Regions from separate parts of the Homo sapiens genome. Here region 2 is linked to region 1. The links come from fine-mapping of genetic effects on gene expression. Tissue or cell type: cerebellar hemisphere. Region 1 holds a variant in brackets; the other region holds the start of a gene. All regions are shown on one strand. Distances are between the middles of the regions.

What was found. PIP is the estimated chance that this variant, and not a neighbour inherited with it, causes the effect.
Region 2: SKIC8 starts here. The variant in region 1 is fine-mapped to the expression of SKIC8 in cerebellar hemisphere (GTEx, PIP 0.91).

Annotation. Positions count from the first base shown.
Region 1 is chr15:78,090,041-78,100,056 of GRCh38, reverse strand. SH2D7 (SH2 domain containing 7) reads right to left here and starts at 7,496. Exons shown (of 6, transcript NM_001101404.2): 1 at 7,297-7,496; 2 at 5,856-5,945; 3 at 1,963-2,128; 4 at 1,461-1,673. The coding sequence starts at 7,472. The variant G/A (reference allele first, on the strand shown) is at 3,935.
Region 2 is chr15:78,295,960-78,305,975 of GRCh38, reverse strand. SKIC8 (SKI8 subunit of superkiller complex) reads left to right here and starts at 6,367. Exons shown (of 11, transcript NM_025234.3): 1 at 6,367-6,414. RefSeq lists enhancers at 5,970-6,059, 5,235-6,201, 6,300-6,649, 6,202-7,169.

The sequences.
Region 1 (10,016 bases):
AATGGAGTGTGGGGGCATGATCAGTGCTACAAAGAACGAAGCAGGGTCATGGGATAGAGAGAACGGCAGGTGGGGAAGGCAACATTTTCTGTCATGTAGGTGGGCCTTTCTGAGGAGGTGATATTTAAGAAGAGAATGGAATGCAGTTAGAGTGTAAACCATGCAGATATCTTGTAGGAAGAGCATTGCAGGCAGATGGTAGAGCCAGTGCAGAGGCCCTGAGGTGGGAGCAAGGTTGGTATGTTCAAGGATGATCTAGAAGGCCAAAGAAGCCAATGAAAAGGCCTCACTGAAGCCTCCAGTGAAGAAGCAGAGGGTAGCAGGGCATCTGGTGAGGCTCTTGTGGGCCCCAGTGAAGTGTTTAGGTTTTATTCTAAATATGAGGAGAAGCTGTTGGCATGCTGTGATCTGATATAAAGAAAAATCCTTCGGCCAAGCGCTGTGGCTCACGCTTGTAATCCTAGCACTTTGGGAGGCCGAGGTAGGCGGATCACCTGAAGTCAAGAGTTCAAGTCCAGCCTGGCCAACATGGCGAAAACCCGTCTCTACTAAAAATACAAAAAAAAAAAAAAAAAATTAGCCAGGCATGGTGGCGTGCACCTGTAATCCCAGCTACTCAGGAGGCGCAGGCAGGGGAAATCACTTGGATCCAGGATGCAGAGATTGCAGTGAGCCGAGATGGTGCCACTGCCCTCTAGTCTGGGTAACAGAGCGAGACTCTGTCTCAAAAATAAAAATAAAAATGGCTGGGCACAGTGGCTCATGCCTGTAATCCCAGCACTTTAGCCAAGGCGGGCGGATCACTTGAGGTCAAGAGTTCAAGACCAGCCTGGCCAATATGTTGAAACCCTGTTACTACCAAAAATACAAAAATTAGACGGGTGTGGTGGCAGGTGCCTGTAATCCCAGCTCCTCGGGTGGCTGAGGCAGGAGAATCACTTGAACCCAGGAGACGGCGGAGATTGCAGTGAGCTGAGATTGCACCATTGCACTCCAGCCTGGGCATTGCAGCGAGACTCTGTCTCAAAAAAAAAAAAGAAAAGAAAAATCTTTCTGAGTCCATGGGGTGCTATGGAGAAGAATAAAATATTGACTCACAGGCACCCCATGCTACAGCTTACTAAGGGATATTCAGGCATTTCATATCCATTTTCTCATTCAAGCTTCACAAGAACCTCAGGCATGGTAAACTGAGGCTCAGAGAAATTATGTGACTCGCCTAAAGCCACATCGCTAGAAAATGGCCAAGCCAAGGCTTGAACCAAATCTAACTGGCCACAGGCAGGCCATGGCACGGGTGAACCCTGGGTGATTCCAAGCTGGGTCCGCACCTCTGGGCCTGGCTCACCCTCCACAGCCGGAGGGAGTGGCTGGCCTGGCCTCAGGGTCTGACTGGGAGCATGGCACCCACATCCCTGGTCTGGCAACCCTGACTCTAGGTGGCCCATAATGCTCCTCACCTCCATGCTTTCCTCCTGGGAGAGGTTCCGGGGACTCACATCCAGGCTTTTCTGTGCATGGAGGAAGGAGACCTGGGGCTTTGGAGAAGAGCGGGGGCTGGCGGCCTTGTCGGGGACCACTGTGAGGAATGCCGTGGCAGGTGGGTTTTCTGGGTCCACGATGGTCTGGTGGAGGCCCCGGGTGATGGCATCATACAGATCATTGTCCTCTGGCTGGGAGCATGCGGATACGGCAGGTATGTGGTCACACATGCCCAGCCAGTCTCCAGCTGCCTGCCTGAGACTGCTGGTAAGAGACTGCAACATTCCCACCAGGTCTCTGACCTCAGGTAAGACATTGCCACAGTCTCCCTTTTTCCAATAGGGATCATGACCCCACACCAAGTGCCCCTGGGTGATAGTAAATAGGGAGGGCTTGAAAAGGAGTATGTCTGAGTGATGGATACCCCAGGCCTGGGCTCTCTGCCCTGCCACCCTCACCCTGGGGAAGTGGGGCGCCTACCCGGGGGCAGGCAGCAGTCAGCATCTCTTTGAAGGGCTCGAGCTGTGCCTCCTGGTAATGGTGCACAAGCTCAGCCAGGGTGCTGTGGCTCTGGGTGTCTCCTGAGATGATGTAACGCCGGTTTCGAAGCTGGTTGATGACAAAATGTCGGCAGCGATCACTGCCCCTGCAACACAAGTGCTTGTGGTCTGGGGCTGCTGGTCACAGGCAGCCCAGCCTTGGCCCAGGGTCTGAGCTCTGTGCCTGGGTGCAGGTGAGGGGTCCCAGCTCTTGATCCAGAACAGACCTGCCTGACCTGGGGCCACTGTACCCCACTTGGAGCCATGGTGTGTTCATCAGGAAGCTACGGAGAGGTTTTCAAACCGTGGAGCCCTGGGATCCTGGGAAGTACCTAAGCCTGCTCTGGTGGAGTCAGGGAGAGCACGGCTGTGACTGGAGTGAGGCAAGTGAGGCACTCATCTTAGGTGCGAAATTTAAAGGGGCACCAAAAAACTCAATAAAGAAAACTAATAACGCAGTATTTTAGAAAATCAAAATATATGAAAAAAATCCACAATGAACAAAACACCAAAGTTTTAAATAAAGACAGGATCCAACCCTGCACCTGTACAACTCAACCTCACCCTACTCCCCACCCTGCTGCAATGATGGAGTTCCAGCTCCCACCCCCTCTTCGGCCTGTAAAGTCCCACCCTAAAATCCTACCCTCTTCATCTCCCTTTTTCCTAGAAGAATAACCTCTACACAGTGATGTGTGTACATTATAAATGTGCAGCTTGATGAATTTCCATATAGGAACCCTCCCATGTAACTGCCACTCAGGTCAAGATACAAAACCCTTCCAGCCCCCAGAAGACCTACTTGCGCTCCCATCCAGTCAATGCCCCCTAAAGGTAGCCACCATTCCGACGCCTATCAGCATAGATTAGTCTTGCCCATTAGAGAACTTCTATAATACTTCTCTTTTGTGTCTAGCACATTTCACTCAACATTATATCTTGGAGATTGATTCATGTCCAAGTAGAATTAGTTTCTTTTTTTTCTCATTTATATGTAGTATTCTAGTTAATGAAAAATCCACCATGTACCTATTCTGATGATAGACATTTAGGTAGTTTCCGGATTTGGGCTGTTATAAATAAAGCTGCTGTGAGCATTCTTGTGCATATCTTTTGGTGAATATGTACTCATTTCTGATGTGAATATACCAAGGAGTAGAGTTGATGGGTCAAGGGTACACCCGTGTTTGGCTTTAGTAAATCATGCCAAATTGCTTTCTAAAATTATTGCAATGCGCCAGGTGCAGTGGCTCATGCCTGTAATCCCAGCACTTTGAGGGGCCGAGGCAGGCAAATCACTTGAGGTCAGGAGTTCAAGACCAGCTTGATCAATATAGTGAAACCCCATCTCTACTAAAAATTAAAAAAAAAAAAATAGCCGGTGTCGTGGTGGTTGCCTGTAATCCCAGCTACTCTGGAGGCTGAGGTAGGAAAATTGCTTGAACCCTGGAGGCGGAGGTTGCAGTGGGCTGAGATTGTGCCATTGCACTCCAGCTAGGTGACAAGAGTGAAACTCCATCTCAAAAATAAAATAAAATTATTGCAATGTATGAGAGCTCCAGTTGTTCCACATATTCTGTCTTTCCATTATAGCCATCCATTGTGGCTTTAATTTGTGTTTCCCTGATAGCTAATGATGCTGAACATGTTTTCATATGCTTATGGGCCTTCTGGGTTTTTCTTTTTGGTAAAGTGCCTGCTCAGTTCTTTTGCTTTTACTTATTGAATTATCTATTTTTGCTTATTTATTTGTAGGAGTTCTTTATATATTCTGGATTTGAGTCCTTTGTTAGATATTTGTATTCTAATAGATAACTTCTTCAAGACTGCACCCTGACCTTTTTCTTCTCTTAATAATATCTCTTTATAAGAATTATAAAAATTCTTAATTTTGGCTAGGTGCAGTGGCTCAC[G/A]CCTGTAATCCCAGCACTTTGGGAGGCTGAGGCAGGTGGATCACCCAAGGTCAGGAGATTGAGACCAGCCTGACCAATATGGTGAAACCCCATCTCTACTAAAAATACAAAAATTAGCTGGGTGTGGTGGCGTGTGCCTGTAGTCCCAGCTAGTTGGGAGGCTGAGACAGGAGAATTGCTTGAACCCGGGAGGCAAAGGTGGCAGTGAGCAGAGATCGCGCCACTGCACTCCAGCCAGAGCGAGAGAGCGAGACTCTGTCTCCAAAAAATAAATAAATAAATAAATAAATTTTAAAAAATTCTTAATTTTAAGGAAATCAAGTTAATCACTCTTTTAAGATTAGCGCTTTTTGTGTCCTGTTTAAAAAAACTTGGCCTCTCATTTTCAAAGGCATTTTCATTTACCTATGACAATGTTTTCCTGTTTTCTTCTAGAAATGGTATTGTTTTGCTTTTCTTTCTTGGATCTACGATCCATCTAGAATTAATTAATTTTCATGTATGGTATGAGGTAGCAGTAATTGTTTTCCATTTAGATATCCAATTGCTCCTGCACCAATTATTGAAAAAACAAGCCTTTCCCCCACGGAATTGCAGTGATGCCTCTGTTGTAAATCTGGTAACCAAACATTTGGGACTATTTTGGGACTCTATTCTGTTAATTTTTCTATTTGTATACCTTTGGGCGGTCCCACTTTGGTCTCTTTTATAAGTTAGTATTCTCCCTAAGATCTCACCTGGGAAGAAACAAAACAAAAGAAAATAAAAAAATCCCCAAAGCTCAAAAGACATTTGAAAACTACTGAGTTAGTATATTTCAAAATGCCTAGCACAGTGTCTGGCACACAGAATAAAAATATTTTAACAATGATTAACATTTATTTAAAGTCCTTACTACATTTTATGCATTGTGTTAAACAGTTTTAAACGTATCAACTGATTGCACACTTTCATCAAGCCTATGAAGCAGGTACTATCATATTCCCATTTTACAGATGAGGAAACGGGGGAACAGAGAAGCAAAGTAACTTGCTCAAGGTAAGGGTTTGAACTGGGGCAGTCTGAATATGTGACAATTTTGAATCAGAATCTGAAGCCTTTTAAGTTTACTCTGGAGCCCTGGCCTCCCTCCCTACTTAGGGAAGCCTTCTTACCTCCTCTGAATTCCCCGTCCTGACCAACCTACTCTTGGGACAAGATCTGACATCACCATCTTTGCCTTTGTCCTCGCTACCTTGTCTCCTTCTCTCTATCCCCACTGTCTTACCCTAGCCTAGACCTCATTATCTCACATCCAGGCAATTGCAGGAGTCCCCAGTGCCCCCACACCTCCAGCTCTGACTTCCAGTCCTCTCTCCATAGGCTGCCTAAAGGACCTATGCAAATACATTGAACCAGATCATCCTTCATGGTCTACAGACTTAGCCAGGCATCCAAGGCCATTCTAAGCTTTTTCCACCCTCCCTTCCAGGCATTCCTCCAAAGGAACCAAGTGTTCTGCTGCACCCAGCAACCTGCAGCTCCCCCAGCACCCTGCAGCTCCCCCAGCACCCTTGTCTTTCATGCCTCTGTATTTTTGCACATGGCGTTCCATCTACCAGAGATACCCTCCTAAACCCCAACCACACCCTCCTTTCTGCCTAGCAACTTGTATTCTTCCTTCTATCCTAGGCTCAAAGTTCACCTCTGTGAAGCCTCCCCGAACCCCACTCACCTCCTTTGAAGGCCGTGTCTTCATCCCTAGTATATGGCCAGTGCTGCTCAGGAAGTGTCTGCTGAGCATGTGATGGATGATTGAGGGATTCAGGAGTCAGGACCCAGGGAAATCTAGGCAATTTGGGCCAGTGGGGCCTCTGCACTAATCTGCAAGGCTAGGTTATGGTAGGATGAGCTTGCTTGCCCAGAGGGCTTCCCCTCTTACCTGTAGGACAAGATGTAGCCAGTGGCTCGGTCACTGAGGCGGATAAGGAAGGAACCAAGAGCTTTGTCCCTGAGTAGCTGCTCCGTCTGCCTGGGCAGAAGACATGCCATTAGCTGGGGTCTGTGCCCTAATGGCAGCAGGTGCAGCCTGACTTAGGCCTCTCTTGGAATCCCTGCTGGCCATGCCTTTGGGTTCCAGACCTCCAACCCTTTATAGAGGAGCCACTCAGACCTGTGGATGGGTCTGTGGCCTGTCAGGGTTCAGCATGTGGCCTATCTGAGCCCAAATGATTAAGTTCAAGACTGTCTGGGGCTGGGTCAGGGTCTGAAGCCATATGCAACCCCCCCAACTCCCCACTGCAGCCTCACTAGCAGGCACATTGGTTGCTGACCCTGGCCACCCACTCTCCACCTGGATGGTTGTGTAGCAAGAATAAATCCACACAGCTGGAGATGTTGAGGTTTAGTGGGGAGTCCCTCCCTCAGAACCACTGTGTACAGTGCTGCAGGATGTGCACTACACACAAGCTTCTGCAGGGAGAAGATGCTGCTGTGTCTGAAGCAGCTAAAAGGGACTCATTCCTCTTCCTGTCCCCTTCAATCCCAGGCAGTTACAGAGATTTTCCACATGGTGCCAAATACTTTGGAGGCATGAAGAAAAGTTCCAGCTGTCTTGTGGTTTGGCAGTACACAGACCAGATATGTATTCCCTCACTCACTTACTCACCAAATACCGAGCGCCTGTTCTACGCAGCTAAATCATTTGCAGGACCAGGTGCTAAATGAAAACATGGGGCCCCTGGTTCAAAACGATTTAGAGTTTCCAGACAGTGACAGCAGAGCATTAAACCAAATGTGGAGCCCTTTTGACCCTGTGCTGCTGCACGAGTCAGTGACCATAAAGCTGGCCCTGGCTCTGTGCAGGTGCTGTGCCAGGACCTAAGGACTGGCTGGATTTGCCATTCCTTCATCAGGTGTTTTGGCTGCTTGGAGACCCAGCCCAAATAGAAAGCCAAACCTGTATCTTGGCCTTTATACCTAGGATAACCATGCATCCAGGTTTGCCTGGGATGGCCCCATTTATGACGGTTCTCCTAGCTTAGTTACTAATAGTGTTCCGGTTTGGACGATAAAAGATATGGTCCCCTAGTTACTCATCAAGTCAGGGCCTGGCCCTCTTTCTGTCCTCTGGCAGCCTGGCAGCCCCAGCCATCCTCAACTTGTACTAAAGTAGAGGCCGTTGCCCTCCCCGACTCTGCCTACAGAAGCCACCACCAGAGGATGTGGCGCTCCTCAGTCTGTTCCCCTGCCCCCCGCCTCCAAGGGCCCCTGCCTAGCCCAGGGAAAGGATGGGAACCAGTCTGATCCAGAGTTCCCAGACCATTTTCTCAGCCCCAAGGGGCTGTGGGCTATGAGGGACCTGTGGGTAGAAGCAGCCTTACTTGCGGGTGATGAATCCATGAAACCAGGGAGGCAGGGCACCGTTCTGCAGAATGAAGGGGGCCTGTGTCTCCATGAACCACTTCAGGGCAAGCTCCTGGAGCTCAGCCAGGGCCTGGCTGTCCCCTGCCCCCTCAGGATCTCTCCCCAGGCTGAGCTGCTTTAGGCTGTCCTCCATGCTGGCAGGCACCAGAGTGGAAGCAGAGCGCAGCCAGTGCACATGCCTCTATATCTGCGTGTGCTCTGGCTCATTTGCCTGAGCCCGTGCCCTACCCAAGGGCCCATAGCACACAGCAGCCCCATTGTCACCTCTGGGCTGGTGGCTGGTTCTCTCCTCTGATGCTTTGGGGTGGGGCACCTTGGCTGGCTGCAGACATGGGGGAACAATCACCGTAGCAGCCTGAGAGGGGTAGGGAAGGCCCTCCGTGGCTTCCTGGCCAGCAGATAAGCTACCTCACTGGGTTTGGCCCTGTTCCCCACAACCTCCTGTCTTTGTCACAACTAAAGATCAGACCCTGGCAAAAGTCCACAGCACTGCCCCTGGGAGCAAAGCAGTGGATTTAAATTCTAGGTATCCTTCCTTCGTGGAGGCTATTTTTATTTTGATGGAGAAGTTCTGTGCTAACCAAGTCTTCCATCCACTCAAGATTTATTGAGTCCTTACTGTGTGCCATGTAAATCTGGGCCCTGGGAATAAAGCAGTGAATAAAACAGCACTTTGCCCTCATGGCACATACATTCTAGAGGGAGACAAACAAATATATGTGTAGAATATAGAGTCAAATGGAATAAGCACTCCAAGACAAAGGCAGAAGAACAAGAGAGCACATGGGCTGCATTATGCAGACACAGAGTCAGGGGTCGGGGTCAGCCTTGTCCAGGAGGTGACACTGAACAGTGAAGGAGGAAGCCAAGCATGTACCTAGGGGAGTAGACTCTTGTCAGCAGGGGGAAAGCATGTGCAAAGACGAAGAGGTGGGACTTTGTTGCAGATTTTGAAGAAAAAACAGAAGCTCATGTCGTTTTAACAGAGAGGGGACTTTGGAGTAGATGGGTCCCCTGGAAAGGCAGGGATAGGCCTGTGGTAGGAAGCTTTGGAGCAGTTAGGGCAATGGGACCATTTGTTCACACAAACATCCCTGAGTATCTAATGTGTTTCTGAGTTTCCTAGCAGAAATCCAGGCCGGGTGGATGGTAAGGCAGCAGATGGTGCAGTCAGCCTCAAGGATCTTGGTGATACTCCCACTTCCACCACACACTGATGTGAGACCACCCTGGGCAAGTAGCTGGGACTGACGTGGGGTCTCAAGAAACTTACTAAATTGTTGCAGAGAACTCAATTTCCTCATCTGTAAAATGGGCATGAGGCAAAGCTATTTTCTAGACTCTAGGGTCATTATGAGGACTAAGTGAGAGGGCATAATGGTTGATAATGAAGGGGCATTTATATAAGTTCAAAAATAGGATGCAGGTACTGTTACAATATGACTGAAGTGATTTGTTGTCATTTCCCCTGCTTAAAGCCCTTGATATATAACTATCTCTGTCTAACTCATTCTGAAGTAAGACAGAGATGCTTGGTTTCATTTTTCCTTGAGGCCAGACCTGTAATCCCAGTACTTTGGGAGCACAAGGTGGGAGGATCACTTGAGGCCAGGAGTTCATGGCCAGCCTGGGCAACATAGTGAGCCCCTGTATCTAAAAAGAAAAAGGCAGAACTAATCAATGGCGATAGAAGTTAAGATAGTGGTTACCTTGGGGACTGGGTGGGGAGCGAAAAGCTGCTGGTGCTGACAGTGTTCTGTTTCTTGATCTGGTTGGTGGGTTGAGTGAGTGTGGATTGAGTGAGTTGAGTGAGAGTGCTCACTGTGTGAAGATTCATGGTTCATGCATTTTTCTATGTCTATGTTCTACTTCAGTGAAAAAGTTTAAAAAAATGAGGGTGTTACAGCCAGATTTCCTTGGTTCAAATTCCAGCATACTAGCTATATGACCTTAACCAAATGATCTAACTTGTCCTGCTGTTAGGAAGGTTAGATTAGTTAAATCCTTAGAACAGTGTGTGGAATAACATAGTGACTAGGATTAGCTATTAATTTGATGATGATGATGATGATGATGATGATGATGATGATGATGGTGATGCAAGATTCTGAAATACAGAAGGTCTGCTCCTGTTGATAATTATAATTATTGTTATTATTACAACATCATCATGGGTTATCTGAAATCAAGATAAAAATGCCTGTGAGGGTGTGTGTGAGGCTTATAGTGTAGAGAACACGCAAGGACATGAGGCAAACCTGTGATCTCAATCTGGGCAGCTCTTTCTCATCTTATTTATTTATTTATTTAGAGACAGAGCCTCGCTCTGTCGCCCAGGCTGGAATGCAGTGGCACGATCTCCGTTCACTGCAACCTCTGCCTCCTGGGTTCAAGCGATTTTCCTGCCTCAGCCTCCTGAGTAGCTGGGACTACAGGCGCGTGCCACCATGCCTGGCTAATTTTTTGTATTTTTAGTAGAGACGGGGTTTTACCGTGTTAGCCAGGATGGTCTTGATCTCCTGAGCTCTTTCTCATCTCTCAGCCACATTTTCCCCATCTGTGAAAAGGGTAACCATACTTAGCTCACCTGGGGATGGGGTGAATTACTACAGATAGTGCTTTTCTCACAAGGACAAGCACATAGGCACATAGTAAGTGTTCTTGGAGGGTCTACTAC
Region 2 (10,016 bases), 210 kb before region 1:
GGAATTTAATATCTTCTTTAATTATAAATGTATGCAATAAATCTAGGAGTATTAGTAGTACCTGTGACTTTGTCACCAATACAAATCACAAATATTTTCGTATCACATTGCAGCTGTTGCAAGTAATTCTAAATATTGTTTATGCTCACTGCTACTTTAAAATTACAGAACAGGCTGGGAGCCATGGCTCATGCCTGTAATCCCAGTACTTTGGGAGGCTGAAGTGGGCAGATCACCTGAGCCCAGGAGTTTGAGACTAGCCTGGGCAACATGGCAAAACCTCTTCTCTACCAAAAAAAAAAAAATTACAAAAATTAGCCGGGCATGGTGGCACATGCCTGTAGTCCCAGCTACTTGGGAGGCTGAAGCGGGAGGATCGCTTAAGCCTGGAAGATTGAGGCTGCAGTGAGCAGTGATTGCGCCACTGCACTCCAGCCTGGGTGACAGAGCGAGACCCTGTCTCAAAAATAAAATAACAGAAGATATTAGACATGCTGCATTAATAAAGCACATATACTACTGTTTCACAAATATTTTGATAACTACTTTGATATAATTGGTTTCCTTTGTAATCCTATGTGGCTTGTTCTTATGTACTTGAAAACATTATTCTGCCCCACCTGGCTGTTCTGTGATCTCATGACCTTTGAGTGGGAACTCAGACTCAGGAGGGCTGCTGCCAGCACTGGCCCAAATGACTTCGGTGGTTTTTACAGCACGCTGGAGAGAATCTGAGAGGATTCCCTGGCAGGAATTTGAGGATTATCTGGGTGATGCATCAGTGATTACAATTTTGTTTTTACCAGTTTTGCTAAGCAGCAGCAATAGCAGAGGTGATTAAGAAAAATGAAAGAAAAAAATGCAAAAAGAGAACAGGCAGAGACGGTGGTAGCTGCTTTCTTGATGTTGATACTGAGGGCCAAGCTTTCCACCACCCCCTTGTAGTTGCAGAAAGCCTCAGATGTAATGGTAGTGTTACGGGATCTTTGGACGGGTGTGGGAGGTATTGATTTTCTTCCTGGGAGCGCCTTTGCCTGAGTTCTTGTCCTGTGTCCAGGAATAATGAGGTACTCGAAGAACTTACTGAGTGTTAAGCAGCTCAGAGAAGACCCGCAGTGGGTAGCTCCTCTGAGCAAGTCATCCCATGGAGTGTTCAGCTCTCAGCAGACAGGAGGCCTGGAGAGGGTAGCTCCCCCTCTGCCCACTGGTTATCCTGCCACCTGCTGCTCTCAGCAGAAAGAAGACCCAACCCTGGAGAGGGGAGCTGCTCTCAGCAAAAAGAAGACCTCACCCTGTAGAGGGGGGCTGCTCTCAGCAGAGAGAAGACCCAACCCTGGAGAGGGGGACTGCTCTAGGGGATCCTGGCGGGGGGTGCTCCTGGAGAAGGAGGCTGTTCTGGGGGATCCTCTCCTCAGGTCATTTGGAAGTCTCTACAGGAGGAGGGGGGCCTCCTCTCCGCAGGTCCTTTGAAAGGCTCTGCAGGTCTCTGCAGCTCTGGCAGAGAGGGTAGCTCCTTTCTACAGCTACTCTTCCCGCTGTCTCTCCATCCTCTCCTGCAGTTTGGCTGAGCCCAGGGCTTTTATGGACCTCAGAAGGGAGGAAGTGTGTGCTGACTGGCCCATGGGCGGCCATGGGTGAGCCTGGAGGAGGCACCACAAGCTCCCACTCAGGTCTGTGGGACTGGCAGCCTGGTCCCCAGTCTTCAGTCCCTCCCTGACCTGAAGGTGGGGCCTTACTGGAGACCTACCCCCTTCTGCCCAGGAATCGATCTGCCTCCTACTGTCATTCATGGCCCCTGGGGCTTGGCCCCAAGCCCTGCTCCATGATCAGAGCAGGGGCGGCAGCAGAGAGAGGCCAGGCAGCAGGAACAGACACCCCCTAGCGACGGGGTGCGGTGGGGTCCTTTCTGGGGTCCACGAGGGTGCAGGCTGCAGAGACCCTCTGGGTCCTGCACCTAGGAGGGCAGATCTTGCCTGCTCCCAGCCCCCTCCAAGAGCACCGGGAGGCTCGGATCCACAGCCGCTGTTTGGGCAGTTGTAGCCCCGCCCAGGAGGGTGGCGACCCTGCCTGCTCCGTAAAGCAGGAGGCCTGGATCTGCAACTGCTGTTTGGGCGGCTGCAGCAGCACCTGGGGAGCTCTCCCCAACTCAGAAGGGGGAGGCATCCACCAGCATGCAGCCCCAGCTGTGCCTCCCTGCCGCAGCCCGGTGATGGCAGCAGCTACTGCAACAATAGTGTAAACAGTGGCCGGGCGCGGTGGCTCACGCCTGTAATCCCAGCACTTCGGGAGGCCAAGGCAGGTGGATCACGAGGTCAGGAGATCGAGACCATCCTGGCTAACACAGTGAAACCCCGTCTCTACTAAAAAAAACACAAAAGAAAATTAGCCGGGCGTGGTCGCGGGGGCCTGCAGTCCCAGCTACTCAGGAGGCTGAGGCAGGAGAATGGCGTGAACCCAGGAGGCGGAGCTTGCAGTGTGCCGGGATCGCGTCACTGCACTCCAGCCTGGGCGACAGAGCGAGACTCTGTCTCAAAAAAAAAAAAAAAAAAAGGGTAAACATTTTGAACTGTATGCATTATTATATCAAGGAGTAGCATATCTTGCATGAATGCTCTCTTTTGTGTCTAGGTATTCTAAACACTCTTAATGTGAAAATGAAGTGCATGTAGCAAAAACCTTTTATTATAAGAAACTTTACAACACTTGTGAAAAAAATTAAATTTGGTTTGTGCACAGTGTAACCTTTCTCCAGATATTGTCCAAAATTACACACGCACAAACCGTTCACCCTAATTAGGCGTTGGCCTCAACCTAAACATCTGGGACTGTTATCTATTAAACTGCTGCCAGAATCTTACATCCAGTTACCTCCACTTTCTAGAACATATTCTCTAATAATGCCATAGAAACCAATTTCTACTCCATACTGATGTTTTTTTGCAACAGCAATTAAAATTTTTTCTTCCAAAAAACCCCATTGTTCTGGGACAGGATTCATTGGTTTCATCAGATGCCTGAGACGTCCACAGTGTAAAAAAGGCCAATTATTCTAGCTTTATAGTCCCAATGCTAAGGTCATGCCAATGATCCCATATGTCTGGCCCTCTGGGGGAATGTGGTGAAAGTAGGTACTTAATACATCCTTTTTGAATGAATGGTTTGGAGTTCTTGTCATAATTATAGAATTATAAAGCTGGAAAGTCTTTAGAAAGTCTTTATTACAATGATTTTCAAAGTGTTTGGCCATGACTCATAGCAAGAAATGGATTTTCACTTGTGACCCAGTAACCGCATGGGTGAAACAGTTTTTATAAAACATGATGTAACTTTACTATGTATGATGCACTCTTATATCTTCTATTCTACTTCTTTCTTAATGTATTCCATTTCTCTTTTTTGAGATGATTAATTGAATTTTTATCCAAAACAACTGGCTTCAATTGAAAATTATTAGTAGCAGATTTGGGAGCAAGTAAACAGAAATGGAAAGCCTTAGTATTTGGCTTAATTATTCTAAAAGCACACTGATCACATTTATGCTTTTTTAATTTTAAATTTTAATTAAATTTTAAGTTAAAAGGCATAAATGTGATCAGTGTGCTTTTAGAATAATTTGAAGGTGGGGTATTTAAAGTTAATGTGTAGAAAAGAAAAAAAACCTTACATAACCCCAGATCACACAAATTAAAATTCACTTAGTCATACAGTTGTGAGCACTTTTGACAGCCAAAATTTCACCCTTCTTAAAGTAGGAGTCTTTCAAAAATACTTCTTCATATTCAAAAGCTAAAAGTTAGAGTGAAGATGGCCCAATTATCTCGGTGTGGGAGAGGTTACATAATAATCTATTTCCAAAACCCACAAAAACCCGTAAATGTCACCAACAAAAACAAAGCAGCAGATTGGCCAAAACTAAGGCAACTGGTTATACAGGAAGGCAGCAGGTCACTCATTTAACTGCTAAAAGCCATTGCTTTGTAGTACTAATGTTAATTCCTTTCCACACTTCAGGAACCCACATCCCAGCCATTGCAGGGTCAGTTTCTGTGTATTTAGCTCTGTGGAATGTGCCCGAACACCAGTCAGCACTTAAGTCAATCTAAGTTTGAAAATCAGCTCACTGGCTTCATGATATAATTTGTACATTCTTCCTTAGCTTCAGGGGCACATGCCTGACCCTGGTCCAATAGATCCAGAATGGTTACAAGGATATCTTGACTTATAAGAGATGCCACATAAGAATTTTGACAATTCAGTCTTGAAGTCTGCTCACTTTGACCCAAACTTTTTAAGCCAGTGACATGCAGAGGGTCCACTGGGGCTGGATGAAATTTCTATGGACAGAGATGTCACAGAGCTGGGAAGGAGAGAAATAGCTCTCCAGTCAATGTGACTGAGAAAAATTAGTCATATCACTCTGAAACATGTGAACTTGAGGGTTAAGGATGCTGGCATGCAGGGAAGTCATGTGTGCAGCAGAAGAGCTGCAGGATGTCTTCTCTTTTGTGTTAATGTGAGATTACTGAGGACAAGAGAATAGGTCCTGGGAGATGTGGGTGTATTTGCCAATTTCTCACCACACATAGCCTCCTCAAAAAGCCCCCAAAGATGGCCAGGTGCAGTGGCTCATGCCTGTAATCCCAGCAACTTGGGAGGCAGAGGTGGGTGGAGCACCTGAGGTCAGGAGTTTGAGACCAGCCTGGCCAACATGGTGAAACCCCGTCTCTACTAAAAAAAAAAATACAAAAAAAAATTAGCCGGGTGTGGTGGTGGGTGCCTGTAGTCCCAGCTACTGGGGAGGCTGAGGCAGGAGAATCACTTGAACCCAGGAGGCAGAAGTTGTAGTGAGCCGAGATTGCGCCACTGCACTCCAGCCTGGGTGACACAGCAAGACTCAGTCTCAAAAGAAAAAAAAGCCCCCAAAGATGAACTTCACCTAGTTGTAAGTGGTCTAATAGTCCTCCGTCTCTCTCTCTATATATATATTTGAACTTCAAAACTAGTTTTTTCGAAAAATATTTTTTAGAGCCAGGGTCTCACTCTGTCACCCAGGCTACAGTGCAGTGGCCCAATCATAGCTCACTGCAGCCTCAAACTCCTGGGCTCAAGTGATCCTCACTTCTGCCTCCTGAGCAGCTGGGTCTACACGTGCACACCACTGCGTCTGTAACTTTAAAATTTTTTGTAGAGATTGGGTCTCGCCATGTTGCCCATACTGGTCTTGAAATCACGGCCAGAAGCAATCCTCCCCCCTTGGCCTCCCAAAGTGCTGGGATTACAGGAGTGAGCCACCACATCTGAGCCACAGGGCGGCCTCCATAATGGGGCATGAGCCTCTTCCCATCTTTTTTTGTTGTTGTTATTCGAGACAGTCTCACTCTGTTGCCCAGGCTGGAGTGCAGTGGTGTGATCTGTGCTCACTGCAACTTCTGCCTCCAGGGTTCAAGCGATTCTCCTGCCTCAGCCTCCCAAGTAGCTGGGATTACGGGCACATGCCACCACACCCGGCTAATTTTGTTTTTGTTTCTGTTTTTTTTTTTTTTACTTGAGACGGGGTTTCACCATATTGGCCAGGTTGATTTCAAAACTCCTAACCTCAAGTGATCCACCCACTCCGACTCCCAAAATGCTGGGATTACAGGCATGAGCCACCACACCCAGCCCCATCTCTTTTTTTTTTTTTGAGACGGGGTCTAGTTCTGTTCCCCAGGCTGGAGTGCAGTGGCGTCATCACGGCTCAATGTAGCCTCAACCTCCAGGGCTTAAGCGATCCTCCTGCCTCAGCCTCCCAAGTAACTGGAACTACAGGCATGTGCTAATTGTTTTTATTTTTAGTAGACACGAGGTCTCTCGCTATGTTGCCCAGGCTGGTCTGGAAACCCAGAGCTCAAGCAAGCCTCTCACCTCGGCTCCCAAAGTCCTGGGATTACAGACGTGAGCTACTCTGCCTGGCCCTCAAAAAAAAAAAAAAAAAAAGTCAGTTGACAACCTATTAAACTGATATCTGTCACGTTAATGGGTCATGACTAGCAGTTTGAAAGACAAAGCTCGATTTCACTGAATTTATTTCAGCAACAGAAGTTATTAGCTTTAGTCCAATCTCAAAAGTACAAAATGAAATTGCAACACAAACCTCTAAACCTGCAGTTGCCGGAAGCTAAACGTCTGCGCTTCCGGAAGCAAATTTCCAACTACCACTCCTCTGGAAGCAGGACCTGGCTTCCTCCCTCCTCTCTCCGCCCACCCTCGTCGGCGTCTGCCCCGCGCCCGCCATAGCGACGGCAACGGGCGCTGCGGAGTGCTCCGAGCCGTGAGGGCGGGGCCGGCGCGATGCCCCGCCCCTTCGATAGCTCATCTTTGCGCGTCGCAGTCGCGCGGAGCCCGGCTTCCGACGTGCAGCCTGGCAGTGCAGTGGTGAGTTGGAGCGCAGGGCCGTTGGGGATTGGGGTCATTAGGGCCGTTGACAGTCCAGGCCAGAGGGCGAGTGAGCGAGGTTGGGCCCGAGGCTGCCTGTAAGCAGGTCCGTTCAGGGATGCTCCAGGCCCTGGGGCCTGAGGGTGGCTTCCATGGCTCCATTTGCCCTGGCTGTTCCTCGGTGTACGGGGCCTGAGGGGAGTGGGGGAGGCCCGTGGGTGGCCTCCTTTTGCGTCCTGAGAATGTTCTGGGCAGTATCGAGATTAGGGCTGGTTTCTCTGCGGAGGAGATCATTTATCCGTAGCTGGGAGGGCTGTATTAACCGAAGTTTTCCAGTAGTGGGCCACGCTGTCTTAGGTAGCGTGCTGGACAGATACAGACATCACTGGACGGGTACAGACAGAGGCTGGGTTCGCTTTACGCCAAGTACCGTGCAATACTGTGGGCTGTTGACTTGCCTGAGTAGTTTCATAGAGGCATCTGTAGTGTTCCTTGGAAACACTGAGTCAGTGATGAATTCTGCCTAGGAAATTTAGGGAAAAGTTTCCCAAAGAGAGAAGATGGCAAGAGAGGGCTAAGGTCTAAAGTCTCTTAGCTCTGACCTTCATAAGACCCTGAAGTAAGAGGTAGTGTATCTTGGTAGCCTATACTATAGCTTGTATCCACCTTTTAGTGTCCCTTGGGGAAGCTTCCTTAACCGCTTCTAAGCCTCCCTTTTCTTACTAGAAAAGTGGAACTGATAATAAAAAAATAGTAGTTCCCCCCTTATCTGCGGGGTGTACGTTCCAGTGGATGTCTGAAATCTTGGATAGTGAAGGACCCTGACTGACTTACCGTGGTTTGACTTACAATTTTTCAACTTTACATAGGTTTATTGGGAAGTAACCCCATTGTAAGTTGAGGAGCATCTATACTGTGTTTTTTCTCATACAGATTACACATACATACCTGTGATTACTTAGTTTAATTCGTAAATTAGGCACAATAAGAGAATAACAACAATAATAATAAAATAGAATTATAACAGTGTAATAAAATGTATGTGAATGTGGTCTCTCTCAAAATATCTTACTGCACTCTACTCACCTATTTTTGGACTACGGTTGACCTCTGGAACTGTGGAAATCAAAACCTCAGCTAAAGAACTACTGTACCTAGTAAGCGGGGTTATGAGGTTTCAGTGAGCTAAATCTTTGTGTATTACTTAAAATAGGACCGGATTCATTGTACATCCTCAAATGTGCACTCATTGATAGAATCACACCCTTGTCTTTTGGAGCCCGGGTTTTTGGAAGCTGGCTTACCGCAAGCCTTCCTCCTTTTTTTGTTTCTATCCATTGCCAAATGTGAGGCCCAGAATGACAGGGAAGAGGACAAGCCTGTGCTTCAGCAGGCAGAAGGCTGTGCTGAAGCAGAGGTTGAATACCATTCCCATTAGCCAAACTGGCTTGAGCACTTTCCTGTCTTTCCTACCCTGGGCAGAAAGAACCCTGTTCATGGGTCACAAATGAATAAAACACTACCAACCTGTCTGTAATCCCAGCACTTTGGAAGGCCAAGACAAGAGGATCGTTTGAGGCCAGGAGTTTGATACCAGCCTGGGCAACATAATGAGAACTTGTCTTTACAAAACCAAAACAAAACACTACCAATTTGAGATCTTCATAGGCAAGGATTAGTTATAAATTGTTTGTTTGTTTGATTTCCTGTTATTGGAAAACCTTCGGCAGCTTTTTAGGCTGGCAGATTTAAAGAAAGTAACCTGAACCTGGATGCCTTAACTGTGTGGTCCCTTAAACTGCCAATGGGTAGAATTGCGAGGGCCGTGAACTTGGCTGAGAGGAAAAATTGCATCTTTATGTTTCCTAACCTCCAACTGAAATTTAGCATTTTCTTCCACTGTGAATGTAGGCAACAAATCACATTATTAGCAGTGTGACTTTGTTATGAATATAAATTATAGATATTTTCATATCATGATATTGTGTAAGCTCATTGCAACTTCGAAATTATGGTAGTTATTAAATTTGCTTCTAGATCACATATATAATGTGTCAGTAAAGAAGCACATATGTTTTTGTATTTTGATAAAATTTTAGCATACAGTCTATCCTCATTATTTGTGGATTCTGTATTTATGAATTCACCTACTTACTAAAATTTGTCTGTAGCCCTCAAATTAATACTTACAATGCTTTTGTGGTCTTTGGAAGACATGACATTTTTTCACGTGAAAAATTTTAGTTGCCTGATGCACATGTTCTCAACTGAAGTCAAACAAGGTGACACTGCCTTCTTGTCAACTCTCATATTGTAAGCAAATGTCATTTTTGCAGTCTTTGGTGCTACATTTTTCTCATCTTTGTGCTTTTTGTCGGTGATTCCACTGTTTGAGATAGCCCCCAAGCATAGTGCTGAGGTGCTTCTAAATGCAAGAAGATTGTGATTTGTCTTATGGAGAAAATATGTGTGTTAGATAAGCTTTGTTTAGGCATGAGTTCAGTATTAATGAATTACTAATGTATATTCAGTAAGTGCCTTTAAACATAAACACACATAAAACATGATTATGTATTGATTGGTTGACAAGAATGTGCCCAGAGGCTTTCAGGAACCTGTTTCCCCAAGGAACAGTGGTTCTGTGTTGGATAATTTAGTGTCTGTAGCGACTTCATAGAACATAATTGTTGTGAATAATGAGAACCTACTGTAATTGGTTTCATTTCTAAACCTGTGTATTTTCTGTAAAGACATCCTGAGCCTGAGTCTGGTGGCTCATACCTGTAATCCCAGCACTTTGGGAGGCCAAGACAGGAGGATTGCTTGAGCCCAGGAGTTCAAGACCAGCCTAGGCAACATAGGGAGACCCCATCTCTACAAAAAATTAAAATATCCAGACATGTTGGCACGCACCTGTAGTCCCAGCCACTCGGGCTGAGGTGGGAGCAAGACTTGGCCTGGGAGGTTGAAGCTGCATTGACCATGATTGTGCCACTGCACTCCAGTCTGGGTGATGGAGCAAGACCCTATCTCGAAAAAAAAAAGTCCGCCAAAGGGGGTCTTTGGCACACACAAAGAAATAAGAACCATTAGCCCTTAATGTAGCCTGAGAAATTAGATCTATCCTTTTTTTTTTATTTTTTATTTTTATTTTTTAAGATGGAGTCTCGCTCTGTCACCCAGGCTGGAGTTCAGTGGCACAATTTCAGCTCACTGCAACCTCCGCTGCCTAGGTTCAAGTGATTCTCCTGCCTCAGCCTCCTGAGTAGCTGGGATTACAGGTGTGCGCCACTACACCCAGCTAATTTTTGTATTTTTATTAGAGACGTGGTTTCACCATGTCAGCCAGGATGTTCTCAATCTCTTGACACGTGTCTCCCTCCAGCTTCTGCCCTTATTTACCTGCCTGTTGGCTCTTAAAGGCATTTTTGGTTGAGACTTTTGCATGTAAAATAAGAACTTTGCCATCTTTGGATTCCCCCATGTTTGTTTGTTTGTTTTTAATAAATAATATTTAATATTAAAAGGAGCTGTGGTTTTTTTCTCTCTAAAGAGCAGGAAAGGACAGAGACTGGTCGCTCTCTGCAGTCACACTTGAGGTG